Linked DNA regions of Homo sapiens: region 2 is linked to region 1. The links come from fine-mapping of genetic effects on plasma protein levels. A gene starts in region 1. The other region holds a variant in brackets. All regions are shown on one strand. Distances are between the middles of the regions.

The links. PIP is the chance, under the fine-mapping model, that this variant and not a neighbour inherited with it causes the effect. The UK Biobank Pharma Proteomics Project read protein levels with antibody pairs (Olink). The fine-mapping took linkage between variants from a reference panel, not from the people measured, so its PIPs are less certain.
Region 2: its variant is fine-mapped to the plasma level of the EFHD1 protein (UK Biobank, PIP above 0.99).

Annotation. Positions count from the first base shown.
Region 1 is chr2:232,630,493-232,638,492 of GRCh38, forward strand. EFHD1 (EF-hand domain family member D1) reads left to right here and starts at 3,112. Exons shown (of 4, transcript NM_025202.4): 1 at 3,112-3,514. The coding sequence starts at 3,213. RefSeq lists silencers at 3,150-3,209, 3,287-3,581.
Region 2 is chr2:232,652,532-232,660,531 of GRCh38, forward strand. All of the region lies in intron 1 of EFHD1 (EF-hand domain family member D1), which reads left to right. Among named protein-coding and RNA genes, the nearest start is that of EFHD1, 23 kb to the left of the region's middle. The variant C/T (reference allele first, on the strand shown) is at 3,338.

The sequences.
Region 1 (8,000 bases):
CACAGCCCTCAATCTTTGCCCCTTGCAGATGATGTGCCTTTTGAGAGGCACCAGGTGACTGCTCACAGTATGCAAGCGCATTATCTAAAAGCACTCCCTCATTTGGAAACACTTCAATGAAAAAGTGAAATTTTGTTCACAATCCACTCCCATTAATTTCAGAATTTTCAAGGCTGGGCACCGTGGCTCACCCCTGTAATCCCAGCACTTTGGGAGGCCTAGGCAAATAGGATCAATTGAGCCCAGGAGTTCAAGACCTGCCTGGGCAACATAGAGAGATCTCATCTCTATTAAAAAAAAAAAAAAAAGAAAGAAAGAAAAGAAAAAAAGTCATTTTTAATTTAAAAAATTTTCAACATTATATTCATAAATAAAAAGAGCTGTTAGATTTTTTTAACACTAACTGTTGTAAATTTCAGCATGTAAAAAATGGTTTAAAAATTCTATTACTGGCCGGGCACAGTAGCTCATGCCTGTAATCCTAGCACTTTGGGAAGCCAAGACAGGTGGATTCCTTGGGGCCAGGAGTTCAAAACCAGCCTGGCCAACATGGTGAAACCCCGTCTCTACTAAAAATATAAAATATTAGCTGGGCTTGGTGGTGGGTGCCTGTAATCCCAGCTACTTGGGAGGCTGAGGCAGGTGAATCGCTTGAACCTGGGAGGCAGAGGTTGCAGTGAGCCGAGATCGCACCACTGCACTTCAGCCTGGGCAACAAGAGCAAAACTCCGTCTTAAAAAAAAAATTGTATTACCTACTCATGCAAAGTTTCTCTCTCTCTCTCTCTCTTTCTTTCTCTCTCTCTCTCTCTGTCTCTCTCTCTCTCTCAGACAGGTCTTACTCTACCACCCAGGCTAGAGTGCAGTGGCATGATCATGGCTCACTGCAGCCTCCACCTCCCGGGCCCAAGTGATCCCAAATAGCTGGGACTACAGGTGCATACTACCACACCTGGCTAGTTGTTTTTTATTTTATTTTTATTTTTTATTTTATCTTTTTTTGTACACAAGGTTTTGCCATGTTGCCCAAGCTGGTCTCAAACTCCTGGGCTCAAGTGATGCGTCTGCCTCTGCCTCCCAAAGTGCTGGGATTACAGGTGTGAGCCACCGCGCCCAGCCCCAGAGTTTCTTGTTGATGGAGACTATTAAGAATTTTGAACTTTTTCTTTCTTGAGGAGAGCTCGATGGAATAAGAACATTAAAAAAAAAAAAAAACAAAAACAAAACCAGCTGGGTGTGGTGGCTCATGCCTGTAATCCCAGCACTTCGGGAGGCCGAGGTGGGAGGATCGTCTGAGGCTAGGAGTTCACAACCAGCCTAGCCAACATGGAGAAACCCTGTCTCTACTAAAAATACAAAAAATTAGCCAGGTGCAGTGGTGGGCGCCTGTAATCCCAGCTACTCAGGAGGCTGAGGCAGGGGAATCACTTGAACCCAGGAGGCAGGGACTGCAGTGAGCCGAGATCATGCCATTGCACTCCAGCCTGGGAAACAAGAATGAAACTCCATCTCAAAAAAAAAAAAAGTTTTTAAAATATAAAATTAAAAAAAGTTTAATTACACAAAATTTTTGACCTTATTTCTCTGAAATGTGTCACATAAAGTGGTCAAAACAGATGTGACAACAAAGCCAACCTTCTAGTCACCACCACCAGGTCAGGAAGTGTAGCGCCCCGTGATCTATTTGCAGGGTTGCCATTGTATATGTAAAACCCGTATTCTCTGTACCAAGTCAAGTTGTTCAGTAGGAATGTTAAAGATTTTTATACTTTTCTTTAAAAAACGTATTTTCCTTTATAACTTTTTAAAAATAACATTTTAACCCAGGTCCCCCGCATGCCCTGCACTCGCATGCCAAAGGCTGGTCCCTGGGTCTCAGACAACCATAGTCCAGCGGGGTCACTGACCTGCCCCAGTCATCAGCCCATGGTGGGTCAGAGCAGCGTCGTTCTCAAGTGGGGACAGACCCGTGTTTACAAGATTCTCAACGCCTGGCTGATGTAACAGCGGCATCAGCCTTCCTTGGGGAGAATGACGACTGTATTTGTTTTTACCCTCTTGTTAAAAATGCTGATTTAATTTTCAAGCTTCTTTTCCTTCTTTCCTTTCTTTTTTCCTCCCCCTCTCCCTCCTTCTTCTTCGTTTATTTTTAGAGCCAGGGTCTCACTCTGTCGCCCAGGCTGGAGTGCAGTGGCCTGACCATGGCTCGTTGCAGCCTCGACCTCCCGGGCTCAAGCCATCCTCCTACTTCAGCCTCCTGAGTAGCTGGGACTACAGACGAGCGCCACTATGCCTGGCTGATTTTTTAAAAGTTTTTGTAGAGACAGTCTAACTATGTTGCCCAGTCTGGTCTCGAACTCCTGGGCTCAAAAGATCCTGCCACCAACACCTAAGTGTTGGGATTGCGGATGTGAGTCTCCGCGCCAGGTTTCTTCTCTTTTCTTGTGCGTTTCACGCAAAAAAACCCGAGTCCCTGAAGCTACGCTGCTTTCCTGCCTCTAGGGAAAACGGGAGTTTTTTCTGCTCGTTTGCTCTCTCTCTTTTTTGTTTGCTTATTTGTTTTTAGTATTTTTAGCATGTTTTGGAAACATTTCGTTCCAATGAGTGTTTGAAAAGCAGCTCCCCCGCCCCACGCTCCGGGCGGGCGCCTCCCACTCCCTGACCCCGGGGAGGGTGGGCACCACTCCCAGACGCGGGGGACGCGTGGGTGTCGCTCGGGGGCGCTCGCCTCCCCCACCCAGCCTGTCCCGGGCCGCGAGCGCTTCCAGTCGGGTTACTTCTGGGGGACAAGAAAGGCACCGTCTGAACGGTCGAGACGCTTTTTCCCGCTACGGTTTTCCCCGGAGCTGACAGGGGCAGCAAGGTCGGAGTTGATCCGAGGGTCCCTGCCTGGTCCCGGGGGGACGGTCAGCCTCCCGCCCGGAGCCGCGGGGAGAGGAAGCAGGTCGGGGTCTCCGGGACGCGCAGACACCCAGACACCGGCGGCCTCCTCCCACCAGGCTGGCAGTCGCTGAGCCCTGGCGCCTCCTTAAAGCCGCAGCTCCGCCCCGACCGCCCCGCCCGCCAGTCCGTCCTCAGACCCTCCCAACCGCCGGGTCCCCGCCGCCTCGGCGGAGTGTTGTAGAGCCTCGAGCCTGCGAGGAGCGCGCCGCCCGCCAGCTCCCTGCGTCCCGTCCCGCGTCCCCGCGTTCCCGCGTCCTGCGATCCGCCGCCATGGCCAGTGAGGAGCTGGCGTGCAAGCTGGAGCGCCGGCTGCGGCGCGAGGAGGCCGAGGAGAGTGGCCCCCAGCTGGCTCCCCTCGGCGCCCCAGCCCCGGAGCCCAAGCCCGAGCCCGAGCCTCCCGCCCGTGCGCCCACGGCCAGCGCCGACGCGGAGCTGAGCGCCCAGCTGAGCCGGCGGCTGGACATCAACGAGGGCGCTGCGCGGCCCCGGCGCTGCAGGGTCTTCAACCCCTACACGGAGTTCCCGGAGTTCAGCCGCCGCCTCATCAAGGACCTGGAGAGCATGTTCAAACTGTGAGCTCCCGCTGCGCGCCCTTCGCCCCCGGGACCAGGGAGGGAGCGGGAGGGCTTTCTGGTCCGAAGTCCCGGGCCCTGTTTGTGTGGGGAGGGGTCCCGGGGTGCAGGTAGCATTTGGCCCAACGCAGCCAGATCTTGCGTGCTCGGGTCTATCTCGGCGCGGTGGGGGACGGGGCCGAAGAGGGGGGACACCAGGAGCAGGAGCTCTCCGGGACGGAGCCCAAAAGTTCTCGGCGGCTGCCGGGCCCGAGTTCCAGGTCCCCCAACCCCGACCACTGGTCCCGCCCCCTCCGCCCGCCAGTCCGGAGATTTGCTCCGAAAGCAACTTCTAGGAAAGGGAGCCGTCGCCGCGCCTCACCTGCCAGCTTTCACTGTATCCCCCCAAGGGAAAAATTAGCCCCTGTTGGCCTTTTATCTTTTAAAACAAAAGGGGAAAGTTAATCCTTGGCTGCAGCGCGGGGTCTGATGAATGAGCGGAGGCCGAGAACGGGGAGTTTGGTAAAGTCGTTGTAAGAGATTCAGGACTTTCCTGGAGCAGGCGCGGCCCGGGAGCCTCCTGGGGGCGCGGGGAGGGGGGGCGGTTGTGGGAACCGAACTTGGCCGCTGGCACCGGTCCGGCGGGGGCTCGTTGCGGTCCTGCTCTGTGAGCCCCAGTGCGCGGGGAGCCGCTCACCTGGGGAGACACTGAGCCAGAGGCAGGCGATAGAGACCCACTAGTCCACCTCGTCGCCTGGAACCTCCGGGGATCTCAGTTTCCTCATCTGGAGAGTGGGAGCAGTAACAGTCCCTGCCTTTTAAGGCCGAAAAGTATTTTGCACCCGGTAAGCTCTTAACCGAGCTATTAATATTTCCAGAATTGAGCCGAGACCGGAAAAATGCCTGGGGGAGCTGAGGCCGCCGGCCAGGTCATGCTTGGGCGTTTTTAAAAGCGCATGGAATGTGTTTGCCCTCCGCGTGGAGGTTCTATTTAAAGGCGCTGTGACTGGCGCTGCGTCGCCTGAGCCTCCGCTGCCCCTGCATGGAGGTTTGCAGAGCCGGCACTTGGGAGCCTCCGCCTCCTCTGCCTCCCTGACACCCTGGTTTCTTTGTCTGGCTTCCAGGCACTGATCTGTGGCGTTTTCTGGGTCTAGTTTGGGCAGTTCAGGAAGGCCCAGTGCGCTAAAGAATGCGGCTGGGGCGAAAATGGAAAAGCAATGGGTGAGGCAAGGTTTGTTGGAGCCCTTTGATTTCTCTGGGGTAATGCCTTTCATGGGAAGACTGCCCTGGCCGGGCTGCTCCCAGACCCCACCAGTTCCTCCCAGTCCAGCTGGATTCAGGGGATCTTGGGGAGGGACCTTTATCTTCAAGTTTTCTTGTGGCCACTCAGGCTTCTTTTGTTTTTCCTATAAAACAATCTTTGGAAAGATCAACTTGTAGTTGACTACCTAAGAGTGATAAAAAGAGTCCATATGCTCAGAGGGTCTTGGGAGACGAAGCAAGGTGGCATCTGTGAGCAAACAGGTACTGGACCAGGATCACGCAAAGGGGAGCCGGGCACAGTGGCTTACGGCTGTAATCCCAGCACTCTGGGAGGACGAGGCAGGCGGATCACCTGGGGTCAGGAGTTCAAGACCAGCCTGGCCAACATGGTGAAACCCCATCTCTACTAAAAATCCAAGAATTAGCCGGGAGTGGTGGCGCGGGCCTGTAGTCCCAGCTACTCGGGAGGCTGAGGTGGGAGAATTGCTTGAACCTGGGAGGCAAAGGTTGCAGTGAGCAGAGATCACACCATTGCACTCCAGCCAGGGTGACAGAGGGAGATTCTGTCTCAAGGGGAAAAAAAAAAAGCCAAGGGGAAGGCAGTGTGTGGCCTGGGATCCCAGCAGAGCTAACAGTTCAACCAGTACTTGGTATTTCTTTCTAGGTTGAGTTTTCTGTCACTTGCAACCAAAATTGGCATAAACAAAACGAGAATAATTTGGCTGAGGAAACCAAAAAGCCATCACTAGCTTCAGGTGTGGCTGGATCTAGGCGCTTAGGTGCTGCCATCAGTGCTTAGTTTCTCTTTTTGTTAAGCCACCTTCCTCTCTGCGTTGTCCCCGTTCTCAGATGGCTCATCCTTGGTGGTGGTGGTATGGCCACAACAGCTTAAATTAATAACATAAGAATGTTAAAAACACTAAAGAAAATGTAACACACCAATTTGTTTTCTATTGGATTACCTTCCAGATTTTACTCATGGCAGCAGCAGTCTTGTGAGGCTGTGAAGAGTGAGCACTTGGAGGCAGGCTTCCTGGGTTCAAACCCCAGCCCCACCACTTGCTCCCTGGAAGGTTCCTTGGGCAGCTTATTTAAAAGCTCTGTGCCATCAGTTTTCCCTTCTGTCAAATGGGAAAGCACAGGACCTGCCATGTGGGGTTATTGTGGGGATTAAATTAATTCATGTATGTGATGCATTTAGCTCCATGTTTCAGCCTATGGTGAAGGCCAGGTGGATTTTAGCCCCTAATTTTTAGATTATCACATATCCATAATTTGGGTAAATGTGCACATTTGGCTGGGTGTGGTGGCTCACACCTGTAATCGCAGCACTTTGGGAGGCTGAGGCAGGCGGATCATGAGGTCAGGAGTTCGAGGCCAGCCTGATCAACGTGGTGAAACCCCGTCTCTACTAAAAATACAAAAATTAGCCAGGCATGGTGCCACACGCCTGTAATCCAGCTACTCAGGAGGCTGAGGCAGGAGAATCGCTTGAACCTGGGAGGTGGAGGTTGCAGTGAGCCGAGATCACGCCATTGCACTCTAGCCTGGGCAACAGAGTGCGACTCCGTCTCAAAAAAATAAAAAAAGTACACATTTTGTGTTGTCCTTTTTTGTTTAATAATTCACTTTGCTGAGTCCACTTTATCTTTTGAACCTGATTTAGCCCACAGTTTGAGCTGTGGAGTGGTGACCTGGCCTCTTGGTGAGTTCCGGGTCCCCGTGGGACTGTGTGCTTTGCCCTTCCGGGTTCTGCGGAAGGAACTCGTTAGCTCCTCTGCTGCTGGGTGAGGTCGTTTGTTTCTTAGAGCTGCCTGAATGAAATGCCACAAAGTGGGTAGCATAAAACAACAGAAGTATATCCTCTCATAGTTCTGGAAATCAGAAGTCTGACAAGTCTGAAACCAACGTGTCAGCCGGGCTGTGCTGCCCTTGAGGCGCCAGCGAAGACTCCTTCTGTGCCTGTTTCCTGGCTTCTGGTGGTTGCCAGAATTCTTGGTATTTCTTGTGGTATGGGCGCATCACCGTAATCTCTGCCACCCTGAGCACCTGGTGCTCTCCCTGTGTGTGTTTCTGTGTCTTCACATGGCCTTCCTTTTTTTTTTTTTTTTTTGAGATGGAGTCTCACTCCATTGCCCAGGCTGGAGTGCAGTGGTGCGATCTTGGCTCGCTGCAAGCTCCACCTCTTGGGTTCATGCCATTCTCTTGCCTCAGCCTCCCGAGTAGCTAGGACTACAGGCGCGCACCACCATGCCCAGGTAATTTTTGTATTTTTAGTAGAGATGGGGTTTCACCATGTTGGCCAGGCTGGTCTTGAACCCCTGACCTCAAATGATCCACCCGCCTCAGCCTCCCAAAACGCTGGGATTACAGGCGTGAGCCACCGCGCCTGGCTTAAGAATTTCACTTTTAAGCAGTTTCTAGATTCATGTTCTGATGTCGCCTTAGTTCGTTGGGCCCCTTGCAGTATATAACCTGATTAGACCAGTACAAAGTACACCCTGTCTTTTTGTTTGGGGCTAGAAAGATTCATACAGATACTGGGAGACATGCTTTGATCGTTTAAATTTGATTTTCCTATTTAAAAGTATTTGGCTTAGGGATTTCTTACATTTTCAAGGCTTAAAAAAACTGGATCCTTCCCAGCCTCTGAGTTTGTTGGGTGCTTGGAGTGGTGTCCTTTGTGAGTCCTTAGGACCTAACAAATGAGGCTGGCTCCTAAATGGTGTGTTGTAGAAGAAAGAGTGTTTTCTAATGAGTGTGGGAAGCCAGAGGCACCATCAGCCCGGCCAGAGAAAGTTCCCTCTCCATTTCCAAGCCTGTTACTGGATAGCCTGAGCCAAGAGAATAGTGGCCTGATTTTAAAAGAATGAGAAGGCCCAGAAGAAACTGACTCTACAGCGTGTATCCGTGGCTGTAACGTGAGCTGGTGGAGCAGTCAAGGTTAGACAGGAAATTTTAATTACCCTGGACTTATCTGGAGGCCTCTTTCAAAGGGAGGCAATGAGGGCAGCCACTTAAAGGCAGGACCCCAATGCAACATCTTAAAATGCAGCCGCAAGGTTTTTGCAGCATACTAAAAGCTTGTGTTTTAATTCCCCAAAGAGAGGGTGGGAAGAGGAACATTTGGCTATGGGAAAGTTGTCTTTTTCTTAAGAATCTGAAACGGTGATGTCATGGATGTCCTGCCAGTGCCAGAGTCCCGCGTTACCAAGACACCAGTGAAACCCAAAAAGGTGAGGCT
Region 2 (8,000 bases), 22 kb after region 1:
CACAGTACTGCTGTGTTCAGTGAGGTAATTTAGGACAGTGCCTGGCACTTCTAAGCTCTCAGGCAACCATAAAGGCAGGCGGCTGTGATTAATTCTTCACAGGACTGTTGTGAAGATCAAAAGGATCAGTACATGAGACAATGCCTCGTGAACTGCAAAGCCGACCAGTTTTAGTTACTACATGTTTGGAACCCTGCTGTGTGCAGTTCCCTAGGTAGACATCAGGCATTTTGAGAGAAGCAGATAGAATAGTGAGATGATGAAGATGTGAGGTTTTTCCTGCCTGTCTTGCAAATCCAGGCCCTAAAGGAAGTGACTAGACAAACCCTCCAAGGGTCACTTTGAAGAGAGAAAGATAGGTTTCTGGTGTATATATCCTGGCTCCATAGGAGAGGGGGTGCCACTGATGTTGTAGCTTTATTATTTTTTTTCTTTTTATTATACTTTTTGTTTGGTGGGGTGGTTGGTTTTTTCTTTTTTTGAGACGGAGTTTCACACTTTGCCCAGGCTAGAGTGAAGTGGTGTAATCTCGGCTCACTGCAACCTCTGTCCCCTGGGTTCAAGAGTTTCTTCTGCCTCAGCCTCCTGAGTAGCTAGGATTATAGCCACCCACCACCACGCCCGGCTAATTTTTGTATTTTTATTAGAGACAGGGTTTTGCCATGTTGGCCAGCTGGTCTCAAACTCCTGACCTCAGGTGATCCACCCGCCTAGGCCTCCCAAAATGCTAGGATTACAGGCATGAGCCACTGTGCCCAGCTGGTTTTTTCTTTTTTCAAGATGGAGTCTCACTCTGTCGCCCAGGCTGGAGTGCAGTGGCATGATCTTGGCTCACCACAACCTCCACCTCCCAGGTTCAAGCAATTCTGCTGCCTCAGCCTCTCAAGTAGCTGGGATTACAGGCACGCGCCACCAGGTCCAGCTAATTTTTGTATTTTTCGTAGAGATGGGGATTCACCACGTTGGCCAGGTGGTCTTCAACTCCTGACCTCAAGTGATCCGCCCACCTCGGCCTCCCAAAGTGCTGGGATTACGGGCATGAGCCACCGCTCCCGGCCTGTGGTAGCTTTAGAGTCCTGCCAGGACTTAAATAAAGGGAACTTGGCTGATGCTTCCAGCAGGAACAAAAGAAAGCAGCCCTGACTGAGCAGCTGGGATTGAAGGGGGTGGTTGGCTCAGGATTCCTTTCTCTCCTGCCCTTCTCCCCTCCACATTACATGGTCATATCTCCACACTCACTTTATTCCTGTACCCAGCTGGTGGCTCTCAGCAGAACACCAATGGCCCTTTTCCTTCTATGGGACTTGCCCACTGGGCTAGTGGGCTTCTGTTTCCCAGCACATTCTCTCCAAAGGAATTGAACCAAATTTTCTTGCCCATTTAAAGAAGTTGGGGCCAGGCCCGGTGGCTCAGGCCTGTAATCCCAGCACTTTGGGAGACCGAGGCAGGCAGATCACCTGAGGTCAGGAGTTCGAGACCAGCCTGACCAACATGGAGAAACCCTGTCTCTACTAAAAATACAGAAATTAGGTGGGTGTGGTGGTGGGCACCTGTAATCCCAGCTACTCGGGAGGCTGATGCATGAGAATCACTTGAACCCGGGAGGCAGAAGTTGCAGTGAGCTGAGATCGCACCACTGCACTCCAGCCTGGGCGACAGAGCGAGACTCCATCTCAAAAAAAAAAAAAAAAGAAAAGAAAGAAGTTGGAATTCCTTCAATATTTCCTAAGCTTGCCAAGGTCTTTTCTGACATATTTGACCTTTTTTGTTAGGCCTGGAGAACGTTGCAGGCTTTGGGGCCTGAAAGGAAGGTTTCCCAAGTCTTCTAGACTCCTCTCAGTTCGAACCCCAGAGGTAAAAGGATGACTTTTCTTTTCTTTCTTTCTTTTTTTTTTTTTTTTTTTTTTGAGACAGAGTCTCACTCTGTCACCCAGGGTGGAGTGCAGTGGCACAATCTTGGCTCACTGCTACCTCCACCTTCTGGGTTCAAGCAATTCTCCTGCCTCAGCCTCCTGAGTAGCTGGGATTACAGGTGTGGGTATCCGCCACCCCACCAGGCTAGTTTTTTGTATTTTTAGTAGAGACAGGGTTTCGCCATGTTGGCCAGGCTGGTCTTGAGCTCCTGACCTCAGTTGACCCTCCCATCTCAGCCTCCCAAAGTGCTGGGATTACAGGCGTGAGCCACCGTGCCCTGCCAGAGGATGGCTTTTCTCATCCCCCTCCCTGTGTTGGGGAGAGCCTCTTGTCCCTCACATGTGACAGCCCCTCTGTGTCTGCGGGAGGCTGCGCTAGCTCCGGCTTATGTGGGCTGGGAAGCCGTCTCCCTGGTGCTTCCTCTCCCAGCTGAGGACAGATTCCTGCCTATTCCCTGACCTTTACTTATCCTCCCATCTGCCTAGTCAGTTTGTCTCCTGTTCCTGGGCGCTGCTGTCTCCTTACACCCAGGCTTTTCAGTTCCTCCCTTACTCGCTTCACTCTCCTTCCTTTCTGCTCACTCTTTGTTCATGTCCCAAATGATTGGCGTGTCATATGCACCACATTGATCACTTCAGCCTGTTCTGCGAATTCTGTTGGAACACGCTATGTGTGCTGGGCAGTGAGCGGTGGGCAGAAGACATTTATCCAGACTCTTGGCACTGAAGGCACCTTAGTGGTCATGTTTTTCTTTTTTAAGAGATAGATCTCACTGTGTTGCCCAGGCTGGACTTGACCTGCTGGGCTCAAGCAGTCCTCCTGCCTCAGCCTCTGGAGTAGCTAGGATTACAGGTTCAAGCCACTGTACCTGCCCTTAGTGGTCATTTAACTGGGCCACCCCTTCTAAGGCTGACTTGACCAGAGAAGTGCTTCTCAGAGGGTTTCCTTGAAAAACCGCATTGCCAAGGTACGTCTTCTCAACAGAAAATCCCCAAATGCAGAGGACTGTGTGGTCAGATGAGTCTGTGTGCTCTGTTTCCCTCTTGTAAGTTTTGGACACATACGGAAGGCTCTGGAAAGTTCCACACTGAACCTGTTAACTTTGACTGGGACTCCGTGTAACAGAGACTGTCCCTCCCAGCCGGTTTGTGCAAGCTCTCTTTACTTCTCAGGTCTAGTTCCAGTTGGCCGTTTTGCCAGAAGGCACTTCCTTGCACTTAGCTAAAGTCTGTCTCACCCATTTCCATGCACAGAGCCCAGTTCTGGCAGCCTTTGGGCCCCTGGGCAACATCTGAAGGCAGCTCTTTGCCAGATCCCACTTGTTCCTTCCACCCCTGTCCTGTCCTTGTGTGGGGTCTTTTTTTTTTTTTTTTTTTTTTGAGTCGGAATCTTGCTCTGTCACCCAGGCTGGAGTGCAGTGGCA[C/T]GACCTCGGCTTACTGCAAGCTCCGCCTCCTGGGTTCACGCCATTCTCCTGCCTCAGCTTCCCGAGTAGCTGGGACTACAGGCGCCTGCCACCATGCCCGGCTCTTTTTTTGTATTTTTAGTAGAGATGGGGTTTCACTGTGTTAGCCAGGATGGTCTTGATCTCCTGACCGCGTGATCCACCCACCTCGGCCTCCCAAAGTGCTGGGATTACAGGCGTGAGCCACCGTGCCCGGCCTGTGTGGGGTCTTAAGTCCATTCGTCTTCTTGGCTGCTTCCCACTGACCAGGCCCATGGCCTCCCTGAAGTGTGAGGTCTGTGTGGAGTGGGGCAGACCATGATGAGGTGGGTAGGACTGTGGCCCTTGCATTCAGGATTCAGGACTTTTTGTACTTGCCACTATGATTTATTTCGCCCATGAGTTTTCTGGCAGCCTCCCTGACTCACTGTAGGGTCCCAGTCCCCTGAAGGTGTGGTCACAGTTGCAAGTGAGCGCCATTTCTCTCAAAACCTGTGCTGGGAAAGTCAGTCTGTGGGGGTCTTAGTTTTAGGACCTTGCTTTTTTTTTTTTTTTTTAATTGTTTTGGGACAGAGTCTCACTCTGTCACCCAGGCTGGAGTGCAGTTGTATGAGCACAGCTCATTGCAGCCTCGACCTCCCAGGCTTGAAATGATCCCCCTGCCTCAGCCTTCTGAGGAGCTGGAACCACAGGCACATGCCACTATGCCTTGCTAATTTTTTTATATTTTTGAAGAGACAGGGTCTCACTATGTTGCCCAGGCTTGTCTTGAACTCCTGGGCTCAAACAGTCCTCCCACCTCAGCCTCCCAAAGTGCTGGGATTGGAGGCATGCACCACTGCTCCCAGCCAGTACCTTGCATTTTTTAAAAATTGTGGTGAGATATACATAATGTGAAATTTAGCAGTTTTGTTTTGTTTGAGACAGGGTCGCATGCTGTCACCTAGGCTGGAGTGATCACAGCTCACTGTAGCCTCAAACTCTTGTGCTCAAGTGATCCTCCCCCTTCAGCCTCCCGAGTAGCTGGGACCGCAGATGTGGGCCACCACATTCAGGTACTTTCTTAATTTTTTTGTAGAGATGGGGTCTTGTTTTGTTGCCCAGGCTGGTCTGAAACTCCTAGGCTCAAGTGATTCTCCTGCCTGGGCCTGCCAGAGTGCTGGGATAACAGGCAAGCCTGACTGCACCCAGCAAAATTCACCATTTTTAACCATTTTTAAGTATAGAGTTCAGTGGCAACAACATTGACATTATTATGCAACCATCACTGTCATCCATTTCCAGAATGTCTTCACCCTCCTAAACTGAAACTCTGTCCCCATTCAACACTAACTCCCCATTCACCTCCCCAGCCCTTGACAGTCACCATTCTACTTCTGTCTCGATGATTTTGACTACTCTAGGGACCTGATAAGTGAATTCATACAATGAGGTGCCCTTTTTGCGACTGGCTTATTTCACTTGGCACAATGTCTTCAAGGTTCACCCATGTTGTAGCCTGTGAGCATGGGTCAGAGTTCACTTCCCTTTCATTGCTGAATGAAATTCCATTGTTTGTATAGATCACATTTTGTCAATGGGCATTTGAGTTGTTTCTACCTTTTGGTGACTGTGAATAATGCTGCTAAGAATACTAGTGTCAGCCAGGCATGGTGGCTCACGCCTGTAATCCCTGCATTTTGGGAGACCGAGGCAGGCGGATCACCTGAGGTCAGGAGTTCGAGACCCACCTGGCCAACATGATGAAACCCTGTCTCTACTAAAAATACAAAAAATTAGCCGGCCATGGTGGTGGGCGCCTGTAATCCCAGCTACTCGGGAGGCCTGAGGCAGGAGAATCACTTGAACCCGGGAGGTGGAGGTTGCAGTGAGCTGAGATCGCACCACTGCACTCCAGCCTGGGCAACAAGAATGAAACTCCATCTCAAAAAAAAAAAAAGAATACTAGTGTCCAGACTCCATTGGATCCTATGGTAATTCTTTGTTTAGGACCTTGCATTTTTCTTTCTTTTCTTTTTTTTTTTTTTTTTTTGAGACTGAGTTTCACTCTGTCACTCAGGCTGGAGTGCAGTGGTGCGATCTCGGCTCACTGCAACCTCTGCCTCCCAGGTTCAACAGATTCTTCTGCCTCAGCCTCCTGAGTAGCTGAGATTACAGGCATGCGCCACCATGCCTGGCTAATTTTTTTGTATTTTTAGTAGAGACGGGGTTTCACCATGTTGGTCAGGCTGGTCTCGAACTCCTGACCTCAGATGATCCACCCACCTCGGCCTCACAAAGTGCTGGGATTATAGGCATGAGCCACTGCACCCAGCCAGGACCTTGCATTTTTCTTTGCTATATTTTATCTGTGGACATCACACCAGCTTGCTGAGATCTTTTGGGCCTAGATTCTGCCCCAACTTTGTGTCACCAGCGAATCTGAGAGTCAGCACCCTTTCCAGGTGGCTTTAACTAACAGCCAGTCCGCCTAATTGTATCCATACTTCTCTTCCCCATAAGAGCCTGCCTGCTAGAGGGCGTTGCTCACCCTGAGTGGTAACATCAGGTCAGCTGTGGTTTTCTGTTAGATCAACTTGACAGTAACGTTTCACAACTAAATAAGCATGTGACCCAGCATCCAATCTTGGGTATATACACGAAAAAATGGAAATATATGTCCAAACACTTGTATATGAACGTTCAAAGCAACACTATTCATAAGAGCCAAAAGGTGGAAACAACAAAATGTCCATCACCTGATGAGTGAAGAAACGAAGTGTGGTATATTGATACAGTGGAATATTGTTGGGCTACAAAATGTCCACAAGAGGCAAATCCATACAGACAGAAAGGCTAGTAGTTGCTGGGGGATAGGGGTGGCAAGGGGAGAGTGGGGAATGACTGCTAATGGGTATCAGTTTCTTTTTAGGGTGAGGCAAACGTTCTGGAATTACATGGTAATGATGTTGGCACAACCTGAATATACTAAAAATTAATGCACTGTACAGTGAATTTTATGGTATGTTAATTATATCTCAGTAAAGCTGTTTTTTAAAAAAAACTTAGAAAACAGGGAAGTGAGGTCCATCCTCAAGTCATTTTCAGTGAACCCATGGAAATTGTTGCTTCCCTTCTTAAAGTGCTCACAAACCGTCCTCTGGCAACACTAGATCCTGGGCTGGTGCATCTGTGATTCACATACTCTGCCCACTTCTGGGAAACCCAGAAGCACCTTGCTTGTTTCCAGATCTGGAACACCTGTCTCATCCTTCACGGTTCCTCAAAGCTCACCAACAGCCACCCAGCGATCTTGTCTGTGTCCTTTAGTGCTTTGCAATGTAGCTCTGCCAGCAAGGAGGCTGCACTGAGCACAGAGCTGCTTGAGTAAGAAGTAGCCAGCATACTGTTAAAGTGAGGGCACTGAGAAAAAAAAAAACACAAGAAATAAAAATAGAAGCACCCACCAGAGGAAGGTGGTGAATGCTAAGTCCCGGAGAAGGATGGACAGTGGGTGCTATTGGAGAGCTGTGGGGGAAGCAGGTGGCTCCCTGAGCTCCTGGGCACAGGAGGACCATAGAGGAGGGCAGGGAGGGGGTGGCTGGGTGAGAGGAATGGCACAAGTTGGCCACTGTGGCTGGAAGGGAGCCTGTCAGGGATTCCTGGGCCTCCTCTCCAGCCTGACCTTGGGAGCCTTAACTACTGCCAGTCCACAGCACTAGATTCCTAGGTGCCCACAGGCTACATTTCTTGGCAGGTAGTGGTTGTTCTCAATAATGGTGGGTTTTTGTTACTGAGGCTGTGTTGGGGAGAATGCAGACGGGTAATGAGTGGATGAGTCAGTTCTCAAACAGCAATAAAGAAAAACCTGAGACTAACTAATTTATAAGAAAAGTGGCTTAATTGGCTCATGCACAGTTCTGCAGGCTGTACCGGAAGCATGGCAGCGTGTGCTTGGCTTCTGGGGAGGCCTCAGGAAACTTACAACCATGGCAGAAGGTGAAGGGGGAGCAGTACTTCACATGGCCGGAACAGGAGCAAGACAGAGCAAGCGGGGAAGTGCTGCACACTTTTGAACAACCAGGTCTTGCAAGAACTCACTCACTATCACAAGAATGGCACCAAGGGGATGGTGCAGAACCATTTGTGAGAAATCCACCCCCATGATCCAACCGCCTCCCACTAAGTCCCACCTCCAACACTGGGGACTACAGTTCGACATGAGATTTGGTGGGGATGCAGATCCAAACCAGATCAGTGAGGAAGCCTGATTTACTTATTTTAATTTTTAAATTTGTGTTATTTATTTATTTTATTTTATTTTATTTATTTATTTATTTTTTTTTTGAGGCGGAATCTTGCTCTGTCACCCAGGCTGGAGTGCAGTGGCACGACCTCGGCTTACTGCAAGCTCCGCCTCCTGGGTTCATGCCATTCTCCTGCCTCAGCCTCCCAAGTAGCTGGGACTACAGGTGCCTGCCACCACGCCCGGCTCATTTTTTGTATTTTTAGTAGAGATGGGATTTCACCGTGTTAGCCAGGATGGTCTCGATCTTGTTCTCCTGACCTCGTGATCCACCCGCCTTGGCCTCCCAAAGTATTGGGATTACAGGTGTGAGCCACTGCGCCAGGCCTCTTTATTTTTTTAAGAGATGGGGTCTCACTA